2 separate regions of the Homo sapiens genome follow, and region 2 is linked to region 1. Evidence: fine-mapped expression QTL. A gene starts in region 1. The other region holds a variant in brackets. All regions are shown on one strand. Distances are between the middles of the regions.

Region 1 (12,307 bases):
ATTGCCATGTAATTACTTATTTTTCCTTTCATATTTTAATAAAAATGGAGGACTTTTGTGTTTTGGTTTTCTTTAATGAGCTTGTGCGTAGACAGTCCATGAGTTTGCAAATTTTTATAAGCTGAGTTTTAGAGAACAGAACGGGGTATAGGAATTATTTGACTGAAAAGTCTAGTGATTTGGTTGCTACACAATGGTTTCAAAGTTTAAAATTGAGTTTGAGTGACAACGCAATGAAAATAATTCTGAGGAGTTAAGAGACAGTTTTTTAGTTCTTGGCACAAGCTATTTCTCACAAATAATGACTCTGCATGACTGGGGAATTGTTTAAAATGTAGTCTTGTAAAACTGAAAAGGCCTTTCATCTCATTTTCTGATCACAATTTCTATTTCCTAATTGGACAAAATGAGCCATAGCTTCTACCAAGGTGTTACCACTTTAAGTGATAGCCCCATAAATCAAACTAATTCTGGTGCTGCAAGGAGTCAGAATTTTTACTGGTTCTGAAAGCTCCTTAAAGATAGGCTTCAGAAACATACAATTTTAAATTACAAGTTCTCTGGATATGACCATTGTTTTGGCATTTTAGTATCATGGTTGTATATACAATTTACTCTAATTAGGTGTCAATTTTTCCTGCTGGCAGGTACAGTTGGAGAATGGATGAGGGAGGTCACTGTATCTTTTAATCAACACTGTCTAGTGTTGTGACTTGCACAATGATATGCTCCCCCAAATGTTGTTGCATTCTTTTCAAATTTTGTCTGCAGCCAAGGAGAAGAAAACACATCGTTACATTTCTAAAAGTTCCTAAAGCAGTGTCTGCAAGAATGTCAGGCATTGGAGTCACGTTTCTGCAATTAGAGGCTTTAAATGATAGAATGAAGATGTCTGTCTTTTGCTTCAGAAAGTAAGGATCATCCATAACCTTCAACTAGATTGAGTCTTGAGTTGGTGAAGGTTTTAATATCAGGTTGCACCAACTGGTTTCTTCCAACTAACGATTTCTCAAGGAAAGTTTCCCAAATATTTGCTGTCTATTTATCTGTACTTCTCTTGCTCACTTCCACTTGGATTTTTTTTTTTTTGCCTTTGGTAACACAATGACTACTACTTATGGCACATTGCAATGATGGGGAAGAACTAATGAAAATCCCCAAGTCTCATCAATAAGAAGCACGAAAGAGCTAAATCATAAAATTTGGGTGATGTTGAATTATGTGTCAGGCACTATTCCCTGTGTATATTAACTCATTTTATCATCTCAGCACTGTTTCTAAATGGGTATGTCGATGAAAAGAGTTGAACTCTGTTAAATATTTGAAGACATTTATTCTGAGCCAAATATGAGTGATCATGGCCCATGACACAACCCTTGGGAGGCCCTAAGAACATTTGCCCAAGGTGGTCAGGGCACAGCTTGGTTTTATACATTTTAAAAAGGCATGGGACATCAATCAAATACATTTAAGAAATACATTGGTTTGGTCCAGAAAGGCAGGACAACTCAAAGCAAGGGGAGGAGGGGGTTGGGCTTCCAGGCTATAGGGGAATTTAAACATTTTCTGGTTGACAATTGGTTGAGTTTGTCTCAAGACCTGGGATTCATAGAAAGGGAATATTCAGGCTAAGATAAAGATTGTGGAAACCAAAGTTCTTCTGAAGTTTTATAGTGGCTGCCCTTAGAGACAAAGGATGACAATGTTTCCTTTTCAAAATATGTCAAAGAAACATGTTTTGGGGTAAAATATTTTTATTTTCTTCCTTGTCTCATAATGTTATGCGAGTCAGGTTTGAAAGTAAGTCATGATATATAGGGTTAAATAAAACCCATCTGGGCCGGGTGCGGTGGCTCACACCTGTAATCCCAGCACTTTGGGAGGGCAAGGCAGGTGGATCACTTGAGATCAGGAGTTCAAGACCAGCCTGGCCAACATGGTGAAATTCTGTTTCTACTAAAAATGTAAAAATTAGCCAGGCATGGTGGCACACGCCTGTAGTCTCAGCTACTCGGGAGACTGAGGCAGGAGAATCACTTGAACCCGGAAGTCGGAGGTTGCAGTAAGCTGAGATCTGCCACTGCACTCCAGCCTGGGCAACAGAGCAAGACTCTGTCTGACCAAAAAAAAAAAAAAAAAAACCCATATGATGAGAATTTATGATTTGTAGGGCATGACTCCCCAGACCCCTTAGATCATAATTTGGGCAAGATAAAAAAAAAATCAGAGCTTAGTCCTCAGGTACTGTTATCTCCGTTTTATGAAGGAAGAATCTGAGATACAGAGAACTCAGCTACTTGCCCAAATTCCCATGGCCAGTAAGTCTTCCCACCTCAGCCTCCCAAGTAGCTGGGACTACAGGCACGTACCACCACACCTGGCTAATTGTTGTATTTTTTGTAGAGACGGGGTCTTCCTACATTGCCCAGACTGATCTCAAACTTCTGGGCTCAAGCGATTCTCCCATCTTGGCTTCCCAAAGTGTTGGGATTATAGGCATCAGCCAGGTAGTGGATATTTTGTCTTTGAGCCGTGTGGTATTTGTCACAGCTACTCAATTCTGTCCTTATGGGATGATAGCAGCCTTAGACAATACATAAATCAATGGCCATGTTTCTGTTTTTACAAAACTTTATTTATAGACACTGAAGTTTGAATTTCATATAACTTTAATGTGTCAGGAAATATTCTTCCTTTTAATTTTTTTCAACCATTTAAAAATCTAAAACCCATTCTTAGCTCTTGGGCCATATAAAAGCAGCAGAAGGTTAGGTGTGACCCTCAAGCTGTGGTTGGCTGTAGTTATGAGGTAGAGTCCAGGATTTGAACCCAGACCACAGGTTCCTGCAAGCCTTTAATCATTATGTATACACTGTACAGTCTGTATCATGATAACAAGAAAAGAAAAATAACTCCCACAGTCTGAGCTATGTGAGATATGCAAAATCTATCAGGCCCAGAGAGACTGGGCCTCAGTCACTGATAAAGAGAAAACAAAAATAACTCACACAGTCCCAGCTATGTGAGCAATGCAAAATCTATCAGGCCCAGAGAAACGGAGGGTTGGACTTCAGTCACCACTCAACCCTGTGCCCGGGGGCAATTTTTTTTTGCTTTTGTTTTTTGTCTTTTGTTTTTTTTTTGAGATGGAGTCTTGCTCTGTCACCCAGTCTGGAGTGCGGTGGCGTGATCTCGACTCACCACAACCTCCACTCGACTCACCACAACCTCCACCTCCTGGGTTCAAGCAATTCTCCTGCCACAGCCTCCCAAGTAGCTGGGACTACAGGCATGTGCCACCATGCCTGGCTAATTTTTGTAGTATTTAGAAGAGACAGGGTTTCACCATGTTGGCCAGGCTGGTCTCGAATTCCTGACTTCATGATCCATCTGCCTCGGCCTCCCAAAGTGCTGGGATTATAGGCGGGAGCCACTGTGCCTGGCCAGGGGCAATTGTTTTAAAGGAATTTTGTTCCTGACTGGCTGCCTTTCTGTTCCTAGAATGTGTGATACAAATAGCAATGTATAGCCAATCAATAGCTTATGTTATTTTAATGTAAATAATTGGTAAACAACTCAGAAACTCCTTCTTTTCCTTTAAAATTCACTTGTGGCCAGGCACAGTGCCTGTAATCCCAGCACTTTTGGAAACCAAGGCAGGTGGGAAGATTGCTTGAGCCCAGGAGTTCAAGACAAGTCTGGGCAACATAGTGAGGCCCCCAGTTCTACCAAAAAAAAAAAAAAAATTTAGCCATGGGTGATGGCACCTGTCTGTAGTCCCAGCTACTCGGGAGGCTGAGACAGGAGGATAGCTTCAGCCCAGGAGGTCAAGGTTGCAGCAAGCCATGATCATGCACTCCAGCCTGGGCAACAGAACACACACACACACACACAAGAATCTACTTGTAACTGCTACTAAGTGTATATTCAGAGCAACTTGAATATGTGCTCCCAAGTTGCAATCTCAAACTTAGACCAAATAAACTCTATACTTACATTAAGTTTGTCTCCGTTTTTTCCTTTAGGTTAACAATAATAAAAGTAAATCATTCTCTTTATAGAAAACTCAGCAGCATTTGAAGGAGAAAAAAAAAACACCAACTGCCCATAAAATTAAAAACCGAGAAATAACCACTCATAATACTTGGTATTTTCTTACTTTTTCTTTTTCTTTTTCTTTTCTTTTTTTTTTTTTTTTTGAGACAGGGTCTCACTCTGTCATCCAGATGGGAGGCAGCGGTGCGTTTTCGGCTCACTGCAATCTGTGTCTCCTGGGTTCAAGCGATTCTCCCGCCTCAGCCTCCCGAGTAGCTGGGACTACAGGCGCACGTTATCACTCCTGGCTAATTTTTGTATTTTTAGTAGAGATGGAGTTTCGCCATGTTGGCCAGGCTGGTCTTGAACTCCTGGCCTAAAGTGATCCACCCGCCTTGGGCTCCCAAAGTGCTGGGATTACAGGCGTGAGCCACCGCACCAGGCCTTTTCCATTCTTTTGTCCACAGTTTTGCAGTATTTTAAATTGTACTAGGGGGGAAAATCCCTATTTTAAAAGAATTCTACAGCTAATATTTTCATAAAGCAAAGTGAATTGCTTTATGAAAACAAAGCACTTCTATTCACTTTTGATAATTGAATAGCTGGTCACCTTTCATTTACTTGTCACATATCGGCATTTCTGTAAGCTGGATTTTTGAAAGCAGCCCAGTCTGAAGCAGGGATGTAATAAAAGGTTTTGGAATTAACCAAACTTGAATTTGAATTCTCATTATCCCTTTATTAGCTAAATGACACTAAACAAATTGTTAACTTTTCTGTACTTCAGTATAGAATTTTGAGTTGTTCGGAAGAAGAGCCAAGACCCTTACCTACCTACCTATCTGTCTATGTATCTATCCATCTATCCATCCCTGGTATACAGTAGGTGATCACTGAGGGCGGCATGACCTTATATCCTGTGTTCACTCACCCTCCACCCCACCACCACTCCTAGTCTTTAACACCACCCACAGGAAAACAGAGGATTTCACTAAGCACTATAGAGAACGTGTCCTTTTCTGGCTGGGCACGGTGGCTCATGCCTGTAATCCCAGCAATTTAGGAGGCCAAGGCAGGTGGATCACTTGAGGTCAGGAGTTCAAGAACAGCCTGGCCAACATGGTGAAACCCCGTCTCTACTAAAAATAAAGTCAGCCAGGTGTGGTGGCATGCACCTGTAATCCCAGCTACTTGAGAGGCTGAGGCAGGAGAATTGCTTGAACCTGGGAGGCAGAGGTTGCAGTGAACCGAGATTGCGTCACTGCACTCCAGCCTTTTTTTTTTTGAGACTCCATCTCAAAAAAAAAAAGAAAGAAAGAAAGAAAAAGAAAGTGTCCTTTTCTGTTTTGTGCACCACAAGAGTTTTCTCCCCAGGAGTGCAAATAGGATGCCAAAAATGGGGATAAAGGAAAAGATTAATAAGGTGGGCGGGCCAGCACTAGATGCCTCCACCCCGCCAACCCGCCCGCCTCTCTGCCCCACCCCAACCAGGTGTCAGCCCTAGTCATTCAGGAGATTATTGCAGAAGTTTCCAAACTGAAGCAAGCTGTGCCCAGGTCCCTGTAACAGCAGGTGGCTTTCTGACATCAGCAGAGACTGGTGCTTTTTCCCAGGTACAAAGGACCTCCAGACCAGAGCCAGCCAGCAGCAAAAAGAGCATGGAGCTGAGGAGTACAGCAGCCCCCAGAGCTGAGGGCTACAGCAACGTGGGCTTCCAGGTGAGCAGAGCTTTCCTCTTATGTTAAAGGCCTTCAGTGGAAAAGCTGCCCTTTCCTTAGCCCCTTGGCAAGTTTCTTACCTAAGCAGGGAGATTATCAGGACAATACGATTTTTAACGGCACACTTTAAGCCCATTATTTTTTCTTCTTGGGCTCTTCTGGGTTGACAAACCTGAAAAGTCTCTTTTAATCGATGTGTTGTGATCCCTATGGTCACTTAGAAACAAGACAGCCTTCTTCTCTTGCCTTTTTTCCCTTCTGGCTCACAGCAGGGGTCCATTATTTATCTTCAGGCACTTTTCCAAAGAACTGGTGAGAAGGGAAAAATGGGGGAATTTAGATCCTGGCTGGGGTAGTGTCTCAGGGTTCCTTTTACTCAAGCCAAGTCCTGGAGCCCCTGTCAGATGGCCCCGGTACCTGCCCCAGAGCAGCTGGATTACGCAAATCAGTCTCACTTCATCAACCAAAACTCACTGAGTGATTAATGCTGCTCAGCCCGAGGCTGGGTGCCCGCAGAGACATAGAAGGAGACCTGTCAGAAACACCAGGCTATTTTGACTGGGTCTGGGATGGGGATTTCCAGGGCTGTTTTTAGGTGTGCTTCCTTTCCTTAGCTGACACTCAGCATGGGCGCTCTGGAGAAGATGGGAAGCCTGCACCGGCAAGTGTCAACAATCCCTTGGACTTTACGGTCTGCTAGATGGGCAAAACAAAACTTTGAGGTGCTAGCCAAGAAAGGAAAGAGGGAGGTAAAAGGGCTTTGACAGGAGTTCAGACTCCAGCACCCACAAATTCCTGTAACTTCCCAGAGCCCAAGTTTGATCATCTGTCCCATGGTCACAGTGATGCCCATCTCCATGAGTAGGCATCGGGTTACCACTTATAGGTCACAAGTGTAGGAGAGGAAACAACTTCATCTACCCTCTTAGGTTGAGTGCCTGAGGCCTGCAAATTAAACCAACATAAAACAGATTAGCAGGAGAAAAGGCACGCAAATTTTATTCATATTTAAAATCTCACATGTGGCTGGCAGTGGTGCCTCATGCCTGTAATCCTAGCACTTTGGGAGGCTGAGGCGGGCTGATCATTTGAGGTCAGGAATTTGAGACCAGCCTGGCCAACATAGTGAAACCCCATCTCTACTAAAAATACAAAAATCAGCCGGGCATGGTGGTACATGCCTGTAGTCCCAGCTACTCGGGAGGCCGAGGCAGGAGAATCACTTGAATCTGGGAGGCAGAGGCTGCAGTGAGCCAAGATCGTGCCTCTGTACTCCAGCCTGGTTGACAGAGGGAGACTCAGTCTCAAAAAAATAATAATAATAAAATAAAATCTCACATGTATGAGAGCCTCACATAAAAGAAACGGAAAAACCTAATAGACTCAGGAGCTTATATACCATTAAAACAAAGCACGGCAAATAGTGAAATGACTAGACAAAGGAAAAGAGGGTTATGCTTTTAGGGACAATAAAGTGGGGGTGGGAGGTGGAAATAATGGAAGATAAGGGTTAATTTATCGAGGTTTGTTCATGCAGATTTATCTCAGCGGCATCTCTGTCTTTGGTGATAAGGGTTGCTCTCTTCCTTGTATGAGCAAGCGGGACACCTGTGCAAGGGAAATATCAATAAATGTGCTGCTTTTAGGAAGATGGGGGATGGGGGAGGGCAGAGAGCTCTTTCTGTGTCTGCTTTCTTTTTCATAGCCTTCAGTTCAAAATATTCTTGTGCCAAAATGTGGGCATTTGGAGGGTGGCACATCCTGATCTCTTCTCTAAGGGCTAAGTGAGGGGGAAAAGCATAAAGCATGGGCCCATTCTGATTCCAGAGAATGGAAAGGATGGAATTGGATAGAGTCAGAGGAAGTATGGCAGCAAGAAAATATATCTGCAATAGAGAAGGTCCATGTCACAGCAACTGGCTGCTCCCAGGGAGGAGGGCACACAACGGTGGTGATCCCTCACTGTCTTCTAGCAAAACTGCTGTTTTGTGGGGGAAACATCCCCCTACACCTGCCCCAATAAAAAGAAGGAAAAATGAAAGGAAGCTTCCTCCTAGTTCTGTAAAATTTCCTGTCATCCTTACTCATTGGATTGATTGAAATTTGAATTTCTACATTTCAAAATCAAAATAGTGAAGACAATTTGTCTTTCAAGAGAATCAGAGGCCTCATAACTCCTGCCAAGTTAATAAGTATGAGTCTTACCTTGTTTGACATTCAGCTCTCCTGCTACATTATCTTCTTTAAGGAAAATTAATTGATTGTAAAATATGTGCTACTTCACTCGCATTATTAAATATGCATTAACATGCCACCAGGACTTCCAAATAAGTTAGGATGCTTACTTATTCACCTTGTCCTAGTCTGTGAATTGTGCTAGAAATTCATTTTTCTTCTTCAAATATTAAGAGTGCCCTTGGTAGACCAAAGTTCTAATTTTACTAAGTAGAACTACTTTCACAGCTTGAAATGCTGATATGGGTTCCCAAAAGGCCTGTGCCTGTAAGACCTGGTGCAGGTGCAATGGTTATGCATATCTATGGATTACCTGGACAGGCTCTCATCTGGACTGTTCCTCAAAGAAGGGAGCACCAATTGCTGTTTTCATGGAGCTAGTACTCCAGTGGGAAAGGTTAAACAGGAGCACAAAGTCAGTGATATGGGTTATAAGAGAGAAATGATCTCACCTCCAAGAAAGGATTTCACAGCTAGAGCACACTTCATACATGAGAGTGGATTTTGTAACCAACGATAGAAATGAATGTTAGGGTTTTTTTTTTCTAATCTCATTTTATTGTACCTCTAAACGTTTTCTATGAATAAGGAACTTATTTCTCATATGGCTGAGGATGGAAATGACTTCATTCAACAGTAGTTGCAAATAAGACGTTTGCTATTTATGAAGGAAGTTCGGATTGGCATTTAAAGTATTGCGTGTATGTGGAATATCTAAGGATTTCTTATTTTATTTTAAAATATTTTTTAAACCTTAAAACAGTCAGCAAACTGGCTCTTGATTTTGTGCAAGATGTTCCCATCAGTTCAGGAAAAATAACTGCCTGAAAGGACAAAGTACACACACACACGTGTGCAAACACTCACACCCACATACGCATACACACACGCGCGCGCACACACACAGGCTAGCATCCCCAGGCCTCAAGGTTCTAAGCAGGGCATCTCAAACCCAGCAGAGTATCATACCAACAACACCCACACCTAAAAACAGTGACTGGGTTATTTCTATTTATTCAGTAGAATCATCAACTGCCCCCTAGATATGGCCGCCTCTAAGAAGGGATACCAACTCAAGAAAGAATAATATGCTCTTCTTGCCCTCAAGGAGAAGGACAGGCAGAAATAAGCATGCAATTACAATATAATTGATGTTAAGGAAAATGGCGGAGGTTTGCACCAAGTGCATTGTATTCTTATATTTATTATTTTTTATATTTTGTCTTGCTATCTTACCAGGGCTGGTCTGAAACCCTGGCCTCAAGCAATCCTCCTGCTTTGGCCTTCCAAAGTGCTGGGATTACAGTCATGAGCCACAACACCCAGCCAGCACCAAGTGCATTGTAAATAATATATAGCTGGAGCTGAGCTGACTGAGGAGTCTGTGACAGCATCACCAAAGGAGGGAGAATTTGATTAGGGCTTTAAGGATGGTCAGGTCACAGTAGGAGGTGGGGTGGGCAGAGCACTGCAAGCAGAGAGAACTATCTGTACAGACTCAGAACCCTAAAGGAGAAGAGCACATGAGCCTGGGATGGAGGAAGGGAACACGGTATAGGGAAAGGGGGCAGGCTGGCATCAGGTCAGGTGGCCTCTGCGTGTGCTAAGGCATTTTAGAAGGAATCGCTCAGAATTTACGCAGTCAAATTGTGATTTTTTTTTTGAGACAGGGTCTCACTCTGTCACCCATGCTGGAGTGCTATGGTATGATCTCAGCTCACTGCAGCCTCAACCTCCCAGGCTCAAGCAATCCTCCCACCTCAGCCTCCTGAGTAGCTAGGACTACAGACATGCGCCACCACACTTGGCTAGTCTTTGTTTTGTTTTGTGTTTTAGAGATGAAGTCTCACCCTGTCGCCCAGACTGGAGTGCAGTGGCATGATCTTGGCTCACTGCAACCTCCACCTCCTGGGTTCAAGCAATTCTCCTGTCTCAGCCTCCTGAGTAGCTGAGTTTACAGGCATATGCCACCACACCTGGCTACTTTTTTTGTATTTTTAGTAGAGACAGGGTTTCACAACGTTGGTCAGGCTGGTCTCAAACTCCTGACCTCAAATGATCCGCCTGCCTCAGCCTCCCAAAGTGCTGGGATTACAGGCGTGAGCCACCGTGCCCGACCTAATTCTTGTATTTTTTTGTAGAAATCGGGTTTCACCATGTTGCCCAGGCTGATCTCAAACTCCTGAGCTCAAGTGATCTGCCTGCTTCAGCCTTCCAAAGTGCTGGGATTACAGGTGTGAGCCAACTGCACCAGGCTGATTTTTTTTTTTTTAATATTACTTTGGTGGCCCCATTGAAAGTGCTTGGAAAAGGAGAGGGATTTGTGTGTGGCTGGGACATCCGTTGGGAAGTTACTGTCATAATCCAAACCAGGCTAAAGGCAGTGGATGCAGACACTGGGACGGAGGTACTAATACTGATGAGGTGACCCCTCCACAATGAAATTCAGGAGTAAAGATGAGGGCCTAAATGCTGCTCTGGCTCTGAAGATTTCTGTTTTCTCCTCTGTAAAAGAGCATAATAATGGTACCTATCTTGGGATTGTTGAAATAATTAAATAAGCTAATATTATATATGTATAATGGACATTTTATACACACACACACACACACACACACACACACACGTATATACATACTTGTGAAAACAGTGCCTGGCACATAGTATGAACATAACAATAGCAGCTTTTGATGCTGAGCAGCTTAAGGAAAGTGTGGAGTCAATGTTTCCAGCTTGGGATGTCAACTTGGAAGTGATTCCCTTTGTTTATTTATTGCTGTTGTTTTAAATAGAGACAGGGCTTCACTCTGTCACCCACGCTGAAGTGCAGTGGCACAATCATAGCTTATTGCAGCCTCAAACTCCTGAGCCCAGGCAATCCTTTGACCTCAGCCTCCTGAGTAGCTGGGACTACAGGCACGTGCTACCACAACTGGCTAAGTTTTTTTATTTTTTATATTTGTAGAGACAGGGTCTTGCTATGTTGCCCAGGCTGGCCTCTAGTGATCCTCCCATCTCTTCCTGGGTTTCCCAAAGTGCTGAGATTACAGGTGTGAGCCACCTCACCCAGCCTCGGGCAAGGCTTTATTTAGGTAGAAAATCTAGGAATAAAGTTAGAGCAAAAAAGAGAGTGAGTTCTCTTTGAGGCCTGTTGGTTGAAATTAAGTTGACTCCAGGCATCTTCATGAAGGGGTAGATGAAGTAGGAAGCTTGTAGCATACGTTCACCTGGAGCTCAGAAGAGGACACACATTTGGGAGCTGTTAGCATAGATATGAGCGCGGATAAGACCACTGTGAGGGAAGCCTGGGAAACAGTAGCGCTTAAGGAGTGGGGAAGTTAGAGATGTCAGAGAATGAAGCAGAGGGCCACAGGGAGAGAAAGAGCAGCAGAACCAGGAGAGGGGCGATCTGGAGAAGTCAAGGGAAAGTAGAACCACAAGTCAACAGAAAAGACTCCGAAAGGACAGAGGAGTCTATAGAGTGAGGCCACGGGTTCACTTGACTTGCCAGCTAGGAGGTTACTGGTGACGCTAGGGTTGGGGAAGGAGGAGAAGTTTGTGTTATGAGCGGGAGTTAGGCTAGGAAAAATGGTAGCAGAATGAACGCTCTTCTGGTGCAGTGGTGGTGCTAGGGAGGGGCGGGGAAGGGGAAGACCTAGGGCAGGCAAAGGCAGTTGTGGGGAGGTGTTTTTATGTTAAAAAAAAAAAAATTCGTTGTGAAATACAACATACAGAAAAATACATAAAAACAAATATACAACTTATAAGGCGAACTGTCACTCAGGTCAAGAAACAGGATATTGCCATCCCTCAGGGTCCAGCCCTACACATTTCATCACTGCTGCCTCCCTTCCCTGGGGTAAACCCAACCAGGGGTGACTACTGACCCAAATGTGGGGCAATTACTTCCTTGCTTTTCTTTATACCTTAACTTCTAATTATGAATCCCCAAGCAGTACCTTTGCCTGGTTTTGAACTTTATATAATAGAAACACAAAATGTATTCTTTGCTTATATTGAAACTTTTTTTTTGTTTTTTTGAGACAGAGTCTCGCTCTGTTGCCCAGGCTAGAGTGCAGTGGCGTGATCTTGGCTCACTGCAACCTCTGCCTCCCCAGTTCAAGCGATTCTCCTGCTTCAGCCTCCTGAGTAGCTGGGAATACAGGCATGAGCCACCAGGCCCGGCTTGTATTTTTAGTAGAGACGGGGTTTCACCCTGTTGGCCAGGCTGGTCTCAAACTCCTGACCTCACGTGATCCACCCGCCTTGGCCTCCCAAAGTGTTGGGATTACAGGCGTGAGCCACCATGCCTGGCCATC
Region 2 (12,307 bases), 28 kb before region 1:
CCGCATGAGAACAAGACTTCACAAACAAAGAACTCTGCTTTGAATCAGATGTTAGAGAACCCCTTCCTGAGGTTCCTCCCCTTCAGAACCATTTTCTTCTTCCCTTGCTGTGTGACTGTCAGAACCAATCTCAAAAAGGATTTTTCTTGGCAATGTTTGCTTTCTGTTAATTTCTCCCACAACTCTTATTAAAATATCCTTCTTTGTTGGGAGATGGGAGATGTGAACAAGCTTGAAAATTCAAAGTGCTAGTGTTAGGCATCTGAGTGCAATTCATTCACTCATCACAGTGTTATTGCCCCCTTATGATGTGTAAGGAGCTGTGTGGGGAACTAAGGAGAACACAAAGACAAACGTGACATTGTCCAATTTTTCAAAGAGTTTTTAACCCAATAGAAGGAACAGACGTGTAAATATTAATAAATTGCAATAGTACAAGGCATAATGTAACCATTCACACAGGGGCTAGGAACTTGGCTCATAGTCATTCTGTGTAAACTTGGGCACGTGACCTAATGTTTCCAGGCTTCCTTTTTTTTTTTTTTTTTCTTTTTTTTTTCTTTTGAGCTGGAGTCTCACTCTGTTGCCCAGACTGGAGTGCAGTAGTACAATCTCGGCTTACTGCAACCTCTGCCTCCTGGGTTCAAGCAATTCTCTTGCCTCAGCCTCCCAAGTAGCTAGGATTACAGACACCCACCACCACACCTGGCTAATTTTTGTATTTTTAGTACAGACAGGGTTTCACCAAGTTGGCCAGGCTGGTCTCAAACTCCTGACCTCAAGTGATCCACCTGCCTCAGCCTCCCAAAGTGCTGGGATTACAGGCGTGAGCCACCACACCCAGCCTGGGCTTCACTTTTGTTATCTAGAAAATGGAATAGGCCAAGTGCCGTGGCTCACGCCTGTAATCCCATCGCTTTGGAAGACCTAGGCAGGTGGACCACGTGAGCCCAAGTTAGAGACTAGCCTGGGCAACATGGTGAAACTCCGTCTCAACAAAAAAATAGAGAGAAAGAGAGAGAGAGAGGAGAGAGGAGACAGGAAGGAAGGGAAAGGAAGGGAAGGGAAGAGAAGAGAAGGGAAGGGAAGGGAAGGGAAGGGAAGGGAAGGGAAGGGAAGGGACTTGTCTCATATCATTAATGAGAGGAATGAATGAAACATGCATATAAGGAATATGCTACAGGACCTTACCACTCAATGATGAACCATTCCTGTCATTACAAAGTACCCTGGAAATACACTGAAGGGGCCAATTCAGAACGTCTTGTGCCTTTGAGGACAAAAGATTTTACAACACTGTAGACTTGAGTTAAGGCAACCATTTGGAGACAGTACAGGGTGGGTTAAGAGAATTCCAAAGTGCTAAAGGGTCCACTGCACCCCACGATCAATCTGTAAAGGCAGTAGAAGGCCAGAGAGGACCAAGAAGGCTGTGGGTAGGAATTCAGCCACGATTCCATAGACAAGGCATTAGCTCCTAGGTCCAGCCAGAGAGCTCAGCAAACAGTCCGCTCTGAGTAAATGCGAGCATTCTCTTTTTCTAACGAAATCCTTTCCCTCTGACCCTGTATCCCTTGTATTTGAAATAAGAGCAATCTCCAGGGCTCTGCCTGTCTCTACCCCACCTGCTCAGGCACATGATGTTAACCAGGTTCTGATTAGTAGACCATTTACCATCTTAGTATTTTATTTTAATAAATATCAATATCCTCCTCTGGTCTGGCATAAATAAATCACTGCCACCTTGTTCTTCCAGCCATATAAATTCTATTTTGCACTTTTTTTTTGAGTGACAGAGGTTAAAAAAATAGAATAAAATTATGCCTTAATTATGCTGTCAAAGTTTTCTCCAACATTTATCAGGCCTACAGGGGTGGACGAGAACCAGCATGAGGCAAGGCTATGTTTTCAAAGATTTAAAGATGCATAAAATTAATCTTTCATAAGAAACAGATGTACTGTAACTAAATAGAACGAAGAGTTTTATGAAAACGACAAACCCTAACTATAACCCACCAGCAATGCTAAGTTGAAAGCTGAGAGTGTCATGAGCAAAAATAAAGATAAATTAGGGCTACTAGGGGAAACTAAAGATCTGACATCGCCTAAAACCAGGCCAGACAGGGCTTGTATTTAGAGCTCATTAGTTTTGCTTAAGCTAATCCAAAGCAGAAGGTGGCCCTAGAAGCACATAGGCCAAGAAGACATGGGTTCAGTTAGTTTACTCTCAGTACAGCAGCTGAGTGCTGATTTTAAAATGTAAATTTGGAGGCCGGGAGCAGTGGCTCATACCTGTAATCCCAGCACTTTGGGAGGCCAAGGCGGGTGGATCACTTGAGGTCAGGGATTTGAGAACGGCCTGGCCAATATGGCAAAACTCCGTCTCTACCAAAACTACGAAAATTAGCCAGGCGTGATAGAGCGTGACTGTAATCCCAGCTACTTGGAAGGCTGAGGCAGGAGAATTTCCTGAACCCAGGAGGCGGAGGTTGCAGTGAGCCGAGATCACAGCCACTGCACTCCAGTCCCGGCAGCAGAGTGGGACTCTGTCTCAAAACAAAAAAAAAAAAGTAAATTTGATCATGCCATGCCCTACAGAGTCCATCTTCATCTGACTTCATCTTCTACTCCCTCTCCCCAGCTCCTCCACCCTGACCAGGCTGCAGTACTTCTGACACAACTTCATGCTCCCACGTTAGGGCGTTTTTAACAGTTCTTGCCAGTACTTTGACCACAGATATCTTCTTGCACAACCTCAGTGAGTTCACCCTATGAATACTGAGAAATATGAGCCCTCCTGCCCCCTGGCATTTCAAAATCCCTTCCTCTACCCAACTTTTTCCTTTTTTTCCACAGCACTTACCACTTTTAGCATAATACAGTGAACCCATTTGTTATATTTGCTGTTTCTTTTCTCTCTTAAAAGTATTTTTTTAGTTTCTTTTTTAAATTTTAATTTTTAAAAAATCTATGAGGGAAGCAGAGCAAGTTGGCAGAATAAAAGGCTCCACCAATTATCCCCTCCCCAAAAAAAAAACTCCTTAAATGGGAAAACATTCCATGCTTATTCATAGGAAGAATCAATATTGTTACAATGGCCATACTGCTCATTGAATTTATAGATTTAGTGCTATTCCTATCAAACGACCAGTGATATTCTTTACAGAACTAGAAAAAACTATTTTAAAATTCATATGGGCTGGGTGCTGTGGGTCACAACTGTAATCCCAGCACTTTCGGAGGCCAAGACAGGTGATAATCTGAGGTCAGGAGTTCAAGACCAGCCTGGCCAACATAGTGAAACCCCGTCTCTACTAAAAATACAAAAATTAGCTGGGAGTGGTGGCCCACTCCTGTAATCCCAGCTACTCGGGAGGCTGAGGCAGGAGAATCGCTTGAACCCAGGAGGCAGAGGTTGCAGTGAGCCAAGATCACGCCGTTGTGCCCCAGCCTGGGTGACAAGAGTAAAACTCCATTTTGGAAAAAAAAAAAAAAATCAAAGGGTACCAAAAAAAGACCTCAAATAACCAAGGCAATTCTAAGCAAAAAGAATAAAGCTGGAGGCATCACGCTACCCAACTTCAAACTATACTACTACAAACTATACATCAGGGCTACAGTAACCAAATAGCATGGTACTTGTACAAAAACAGACAGATAGACCAATGGAACAGAATATAGAGCCCAGAAATGAGACAACACATCTACAACCATCTAATTTTCGACAAAGTCAACAAAAACAAGCACTGGGGAAAGGACTCCCTATTCAGTAAATGGTGCTAGAATAACTGGCTAGCCATGTGCGGACTATTGAAACTGGACCTCTTCCTTACACTACATACAAAAATTAACTCAAGATGAATTAAAGGCTTAAATGTGAAACTAAGAACTATAAAAACCCTGGAAGACAACCTAGACAATACCATTATGGACATAGGAACAGGCAAAAATTACATGATGAAAATGCCCAAAGCAATTGCAACAAAAGCAAAAATTGACAAACGAGATCTAATTAAACTAAAGAGCTTCTCCACAGCAAAATAAACCATCAACAGAGTAAAAAGACAACCCACAGAATGGGAGAAACATTTCGCAAACTATGCATCTGACAAAGGTCTATTATCCAGCATCTATAAGGCACTTAAATTTTACAAGAAGACAAACAACCCCATTAAACAGTGGGCAAAGGACATGAACAGACACTTTTCAAAAGAAACATATATGTGGCCAACATGCATGTGAAAAAAAGCTCAACATCACTGACCATTAGAGAAATGCAAATCAAAACCACGATGGATACCATCTCACACCAGTCAGAGTGGCTATTATTAAAAACACAAAAAGTAACAGGGGTTGGTGAAGTTGTAGAGAAAAAGGAATGCTTATACACTGTTGGTGGGTGTGTAAATTAGTTCAGCCATTGTGGAAAACAGCGTGGCAATTCCTCAAAGATCTAAAAAGAGAACTACCATTTGATGCAGCAATCCCATTTCTGGGTATATACCCAAAGAAATATAATCCTTCTATTATAAAGACACATGCACACATATGTTCATTGCAGCACTGTTAACAACAGCAAAGACATGGACTCAACCTCAATGCTCATGAATAGTAGATTGGATTAAAAAAATACAATATCTATACACCATAGCATACTATGCATCCATAAAAAAGAATGACATCATATCCTTTGCAGGAACATGGATGGAGCTGGAGGCCATTATCCTTAGCAAACTAATGCAGGAACAGAAAACCAAATACTACATGTTCTCACTTATAAGTGGGGACTAAATGATGAGAACATATGGACATAAAGAGGGGAACAACAGACACCGGGGCTTACTGGAGGGTGGAGGGCTGGAGGAAGGAGAGGATCAGGAAAAATAACAAATGGATAATAGGTTTAATACTTGGGTGATGAAATAATCTGTACAACAAACCGCTGTGACACAAGTTTACCTATATAACAAACCTGCACATTACCCCTGAACTTAAAAGTTAAAAAAAAAAGAACCAAAAAATCACATGAGCCCTCAAAGTACCCCCACCCCTCCATTCCACGCTTGACCCCAGCAGTAGCATGGTGCGGAGCGCGTCTCTGGGCACTGAGGGAGGGAGTAAACAGCAGTTGTAAGGCATTGAACTCAGTGCTGTTCTGTTAGAGCAGAAAGGAAAACTAAACCAAACTCAGCTAACACCCACCTATTGGGGGAGCATTCAAACCAGCCCTAGCCAGAGGGGAATCGCCTATTCCAGCTGTCTGAACTTGAGTTCCCACAAACCTCACCACTGAGGGCTACAGTGCTCTGGGACTCTAAAAAACCTTAAAGACAGTCTAGGCCGTAAGGGCTGCAAATCTTAGGCAAAAAAAAAAAAAAAAAAAAAGTAAATGTGATCATGCCATGCCCTACAGAGTCCATCTTCATCTGACTGCATCTTCTTTTTTTTTTTTTTTGAGACAGAGTTTTGCTCTGTCGCCCAGGCTGGAGTGCAGTGGCATGATCTTTGCTCTCTGCAACCTCCGCCCCGCTCCGGGTTCAAGCAATTCTCCTTCCTCAGCCTCTTGAGTAGCTGGGATTATAGGTGCCCAGCACCATGCCCGGCTAATTTTTGTATTTTTAGTAGAGACAGGGTTTCATCATGTTGGCCAGGCTGGTCTCAAACTCCTGACCTCAAGTGATCCACCTGCCTCGGCCTCTCAAAATGCTAGGATAACACATGTGAGCCACCACGCCTGGCATGACTTCATCTTCTACCCCCTCTCCCCAGTTCCTCCACCCTGACCAGCCTGCAGTTCTTCTGACATGACTTCATGTCCTAGGGCTGAACTGGGCCCAGAGACAGTGGACTTGGTGGGGGGGCAGGGGTGTGGCATGTGACATACTGAGACACCAGCTGGGGTGCCCCTCCTCTAACTCCAGGCTGCACAGCCCTCCGCTGCATAAGACACTCCTTCCTTCCTCTTGAGGAGAGAAGGAAGAGTGGGGAGGACTTTGTCTTGCATCTTGGATGCCAACTCAGCCACAGCAGGATAGGGCACTGGGCAGAGTTGTGAGGCCCCCATTCCAGGCCCCAGCTCCCAGATGACATTTCTAGACACACCCTGAGTCAGAAGTGAACCTGCCACCTTGAAGGAAAGGACCCAGTCC[G/A]GCCAGCATTCAGCATCTGCTAAATGAAGAGCGCTTGGGACCTGAACAACCAGCAGCGATACCCAGGTACTGTATCAGTGTGGGGGAAAAGAAGAGAGATCAGACTGTTACTGTGTCTATGTAGTAAAAGAAAGACATAAGAAACTCCATTTTGATCATATTAAGAAAAATTGTTCTGCTTTGAGATGCTGTTAACCTGTAACTTTAGCCCCAACCCTGTGCTCATAGAAACATGTGCTGTATTGAATCAAGGTTTAAGGGATTTAGGGCTGTGCAGGATGTGCTTTGTTAACAATATGTTTGCAGGCAGTATGCTTGGTAAAAGTCATCTCCATTCTCCGTCCTTTATTAACCAGGGACACGATGCACTGTGGAAAGCCACAGGGACCTCTGCCCAAGAAAGCCTGGGTATTGTCCAAGGTTTCCCCCCACTGAGACAGCCTGAGATATGGCCTCATGGGAAGAGAAAGACCTTACCATCCCCCAACCCGACACCCATAAAGGGTCTGTGCTGAGGCGGATTAGTAAGAGAGGAAGGCCTCTTTGCGGTTGAGATAAGAGGAAGGCCTCTGTTTCCCGCATGTCCCTGAGAATGGAATGTCTCCGTGTGAAGCCGACCATTCATTCTACTCTGAGATGGAGAAAACCGCCCTATGGCTGGAGGCGAGATATGCTGGCAGTGATACTGCTCTGTTACTCTTTGCTACACTGAGATGTTTGGGTAAAGAGAAACATAAATCTAGCCTACGTGCACATCCGGGCACAGTACCTTCCCTTGAACTTATTTATGATGCAGATTACTTGCTCATATGTTTTCCTGCTGACCTTCTCCCCATCATCACTCTGTTCTCCTGCCACACTCCCCTTGCCGAGATAGTAAAAAATAGAAATCAATAAATACTGAGGGAACTCAGAGACCAGCGCCGGTGCAGGTCCTCGCATGCTGAGTGTGCGGGTCCCCTGGGCCCACTGTTCTTTCTCTATGCTTTGTCTCTGTGTCTTATTTCTTTTCTCAGTCTCTCGTCTCCACCTGACGAGAAACACCCACAGGTGTGGAGGGGCAGGACCCCTTCAATCAAGGGCCTAGGGTGAGCCTCTGAAACTTGCTAGCTTCAGATACCAGCACAGCCACAAATGGGCAAAGCACCAGGCAGGCTTTTGGGGTCACATATTTCAGGACCTGGCTTGTGGATATCTCTGGACCTGCCCTGGGCCAGAGGGGAGCCCATTGCCCTGAAGGGTGAGTCCCAGGCCAGGCAGCATTCACCACCAGCTGACTTAAGAGACTTTGGGCCTTAAGAGAATATTGGCGGTAGTATGGCAGTACTTCCTGTGGAGTACTCCCCGTGGCCTGCGGTGGTGGTGGCTATGAAGTGAGGCTCCTCTGCCTTTGGAAAAGGGAGGGAAGAGTGGGAAGCACTGTGTCTTATGGTTTGAGTGCCAGCTCAGCCACAGTGCAGGTAGACTTCTAAGGTTTTCATTCTACTCCCTGAGGCCCAGACAGCACCTCTGGACCCACCAAAGGCCTGGGGGAGCTTGCTGACCTGAAGGGAAGGACACAGGCCTGACTAGCCTTGTCACCTGTTGACTGTAGAGCCCCAGGGCCTTGACAGAACATAGGCAGTAGCCAGGAAGTGGTTACAGAAGGTCTTGGGTGAGACTCAGGGCTGTGCTGGCTTCAGGGCTGACCCAGCACAGTCACAGTGGTGGTGGCCACAGAGGTGCTTGTGTCGCTCCACCCCCAGCTTTAGGTGGCTCAGAACAGAGAGAGAGATTCTGTTTGTTTGGGAGAAAGTAAGGGAAGAGAACAAGAGTCTCTGCTTGGTAATTCAAAGAATTCTCCTAGATCTTGTCCAAGACCATCAAGGAAGTACCTCTACAAGTCTGCAAGAACCACAGTGTTGCTGAGCTTGGGGTGTCCCCCAAAGCAGATATAGCTTAGATTACAACACTCTAGACCTTTCAAATATCTGGAAACCCTTCCCAAGAAGGACAGGTACTAACAAGCCCAGACAGTGAAGACTACAATAAACACTTAACTCTTCAATGCCCAGACACCAAAGAACATCTACTAGCATCAACACCATCCAGGAAAACAAGACTTCACCAAATGAACTAAATAAGCCAACATGGACCAATCCTGGAGAAACAGAGATATTTGGCCTTTCAGACAGAAAAATCAAAATAGCTGTGTTGAGGAAACTAAAAGAGATTCAAGATAACACAGAAGGGTCAGAACTCTATCAGACAAATTTAACACAGAGATTGAAATAGTTTAAAATAAGCAGAAATTCTGGAGCTGAAAAATGCAACTGGCATATTGAAGAATGCATCAGAATCTTAATAGCAGAATTGATCAAGCAGAAGAAAGAATTAGTGAGCTTGAAGCCAGGCTGTTTGAAAATACAGTCAGTTTACAGCCATACCACCCCGAATGCACCCAATCTTTTTTTTGTTTTTTTGTTTTGAGATGGAGTTTCACTCGTGTTGCCCAGGCTGGAGTGCAATGGCACGATCTTGGCTCACCACAACCTCTGCCTCCTGGGTTCAAGCAATTCTCTCACCTCAGCCTCCCAAGTAGCTGGGATTACAGGCATGTGCCACCACGCCTGGCTAATTTTGTATTTTTAGTAGAGACAGGGTTTCTCCATGTTGGTCAGGCTGGTCTCGAACTCCCAACCTCAGGTGATCCTCCCACCTCAGCCTCCCATAGTACTGGGATTACAGGTGTAAGCCACCACGCCCAGTCTTCGAGCACACCCAATCTTGTCTGAAAATATACAGAGACAGTAAAAGAATAAAAAACTGGATATCCATATGCAGAAGAATGAAACTAGAACCCTATCTCTCCCCATATACAAAAATAAATCAAAATGGATTAGACTTAAATCTATGAAACTACTACAAGAAAAGTTTGGGAAAAATCTCCAGGACATTGTTATGGGCGAAAATTTCTTGAGAAATACCCCACAAGCACAGGCAACCAAAGCAAAAGTGAACAAATGGGGTTATATCAACTTAAAAAAAACTTCTGCACAGCAAAGGAAAAATAGCAACAAAGTGAAGTTTTGCAAACTACTCATTTGACAAAGGATTATAATCAGCATATATAAGGAGCTCAAACAACTCTATAGGAAAAAAAATCTAATAATCCAATTTAAAACTAGGCAAAAAGATTTGAATAGACATTTCTCAAAAGAAGACATTTAAATGGCAAACAGGCATATGAAAAGGTGCTCAACATCACTGATCATCAGAGAAATGCAAACCAAGATTACAGTGAGATAGCATCTCACCCCAGTTATAATGGGATATATCCAAAGACAGGCAATAACAAATGCTGGTGAGAATGAAGAGAAAAGGGAACTCTTGTACACTGTTGGTAGGAATGTAAATTAGTACAGACACTCTGGAGAATAGTTTGGAGGTTCCTCAAAAATCTAAAAATAGAGCAACTATATGATCCAGCAATCCCACTGCTGGGTATATACCCAAAAGAAAGGAAGTCAGTATATTGAAGAGATACCGGCACTCACATGTTTGTTGCAGCACTGTTCACAATAGCTAAGATTTGGAAGCAACCTAAGTGTCCATCAACAGATGAATGGATAAAGAAAATGTGGTTCATATACACAATGGAATACTATTCAGCCTTAAAAAACAATGAGATTCAGTCATTTGCAACAGCATAGATGAAACTGGAGATCATTATGTTAAGTGAAATAAGCTAGGCACAGAAAGACAAACATCGCATGTTATCACTTATTTGTGGAATCTAAAAATTGAAACAATGGAATTCATGGGCATGGAGAGTAGAGCATGGTGACCAGAGGCTGGGGAGGGTAGTGGGGGTCTGCAGGGGAGGTAGGGATGGTTAATGGGTACAAAAAAAACAAAAAGAATTAAAAAGACCTACTATTTGATCACACAACAGATTGACTATAGTTAATAATTACTTAACTGTACCTTTCAAAATAACTTAAAAAAGCGTAATTGGCCAGGCACAGTGCCTCACACCTGTAATCCCAACACTTTGGGAGGTGAAGGCAGGAGGATCACTTGAGGCCAAGAGTTCAAGACCAGGCTGGGCAACATAGCAAGACCTTGTCTTTACAAAACAAAGGTCAGGCGTGGTGACTCATGCCTGTAATCCCAGCATTTGGGAGGCTGAGGTGAGTGGATCACCTGCCAACACGGCGAAACCCCATCTCTACTGAAAAAATACAAAAATTAGCCGGGCATCAAGGGTGCATGCCTATAAGCCACTCGGGAGGCTGAGGCAGGAGAATTGCTTGAACCTGGCAAGCAGAGGTTGAAGTGAGCCGAGATCGTGCCATTGCACTCCAGCTTTGGTAACAGAGCAAGACGCCATCTCAAAAAAAAAAAAAAAAAAAAAAGAGTGTAACTGGATTTTTTGTAACACAAAGGATAAATGCTTGAGGGGATGAATAGCCTATTTTCCATGATGTGATTATTACATATTGCATGCCTGTATCAAAACATCTCATGTACCCCATAAATATATACACCTACTATGCACCCACAAAAATTAAAGATAAATTTTTTTAAATCTATGAAAAAAGATAATTTTAAAAATCAAAGACAAACTTTGGTCAGTATGGAAATCAGGCCAGTCTTGGTGGCTTAAGCCTGTAATCCCATCGCTTTGAGAAACCAAAGCAGGAGGATCATTTGAGCCCAAGGGTTCAAGACCAGCCTGGGCAACATAGTGAGACCCCCATCTCTACAAAAATAAACAAATGTTAATCACATGTGCAATTTATTGGAAACACAGTGGGACATGGGTATCCCAACTTCCCATTCTGACTCAGAATGTCTGGGGTGGGGCACAGCCATCTTTTATCTTTTTCTCTGTTAGCAAAACACTTAGATGATTCTGATAAATGCCCTAATCCCATCTACTAGTGAAACTAATAATAATATGGATGTGACAGGATTCAATTCGTGAATATTGAGTGCCTGGCACAGAGGAAGTGATCATTATTTCTGTATTCCCAGCCCTAGAGCACCTTGCTTGCTGTACCGTTTTGGTTGAAAAATAGTAGCTGAATGAACAATGGGAATAGTCCAGTAAAGAGGAATCTTAGTCATCAGTGTACATAATAAATACTTGAAGGTTATGAAGAATACAGATCCTTGATTCCTTCCCATAGACATTTTCCTGCCTTGACTTATTGATTTCTCCCCTCTTGGTTCCTCTCCTACATCACTGCCTGTGCCTTCTCAGTCTCTTTTAAGCTCCTGTACCTTCGTTCAATCTCCTAATATAAGAACATCCCAGATTAGTCCTAGGGACCCTTGTTCTTCTTTATTTACATACTAGTAGATTTCATCATGTTCCATAGCTTTAAATATCATTTAAGGGTTTATGAACTTGAATGGGAAAAAATATTCTATCTTCACTAATCTCTATCTGAAAGTTAATATTTCTTTCATTCGTAAATAAAGCAATGGTACTGTCATATCTGGAGCTCTGTCACCATTCACGAACATGTTCATATTACATTACAGTTATTCCAGACATCCAAAAATATTTTTATCTTTTTTACTACTTGCAAATATGTTAGTTATTAGATTTATAAATCTGTTATTTAATGTATTAATACAAGAGTTATTATATTACTTTATCACAATTTTTTAATACCTACTTATATTTTAATGCAGTTTTCCTTTGCAATCTTATGTATTTTATTTTATGCACTTAAAAGCATCATTCTGAGAAGAGGGCTGTAGGCTTCACCAGACTGCCAAAGCGGTCCATGGCATTTAAAAAGTTCATCACCTTTGATTTAAATGACAATCAGTCCTAAATTTATTTATTTATTTATTTATTTATTAACTTATTTATTTTAATTTTTTTTTTTTAAACAGAGTCTCACTCTGTCACCCAGGCTATAAGGGCAGTGGCCCGATCTCGGCTCACTGCAATCTCCGCCTCCCAGGTTCAAGCAATTCTCTTGCCTCAGCCTCCCAAGTAGCTGGGACTACAGGCATGCACCACCACACCTGGCTAATTTTTGTATTTTTAGTAGAGACAGGGTTTCACCATGTTGGCCAGGCTGATCTTCAACCCCTTACCTCAGGCAATCTGCCCACCTCAGCTTCCCAAAGTGCTGGGATTACAGGTGTGAGCCACA

The links.
Region 2: its variant is fine-mapped to the expression of SLC28A3 in whole blood (TOPMed, PIP above 0.99).

What each region holds. Positions count from the first base shown.
Region 1 is chr9:84,334,020-84,346,326 of GRCh38, reverse strand. SLC28A3 (solute carrier family 28 member 3) reads left to right here and starts at 5,569. Exons shown (of 18, transcript NM_001199633.2): 1 at 5,569-5,753. The coding sequence starts at 5,694.
Region 2 is chr9:84,362,360-84,374,666 of GRCh38, reverse strand. It overlaps a transcript of SLC28A3 not described here. Among named protein-coding and RNA genes, the nearest start is that of SLC28A3, 28 kb to the right of the region's middle. The variant G/A (reference allele first, on the strand shown) is at 6,150.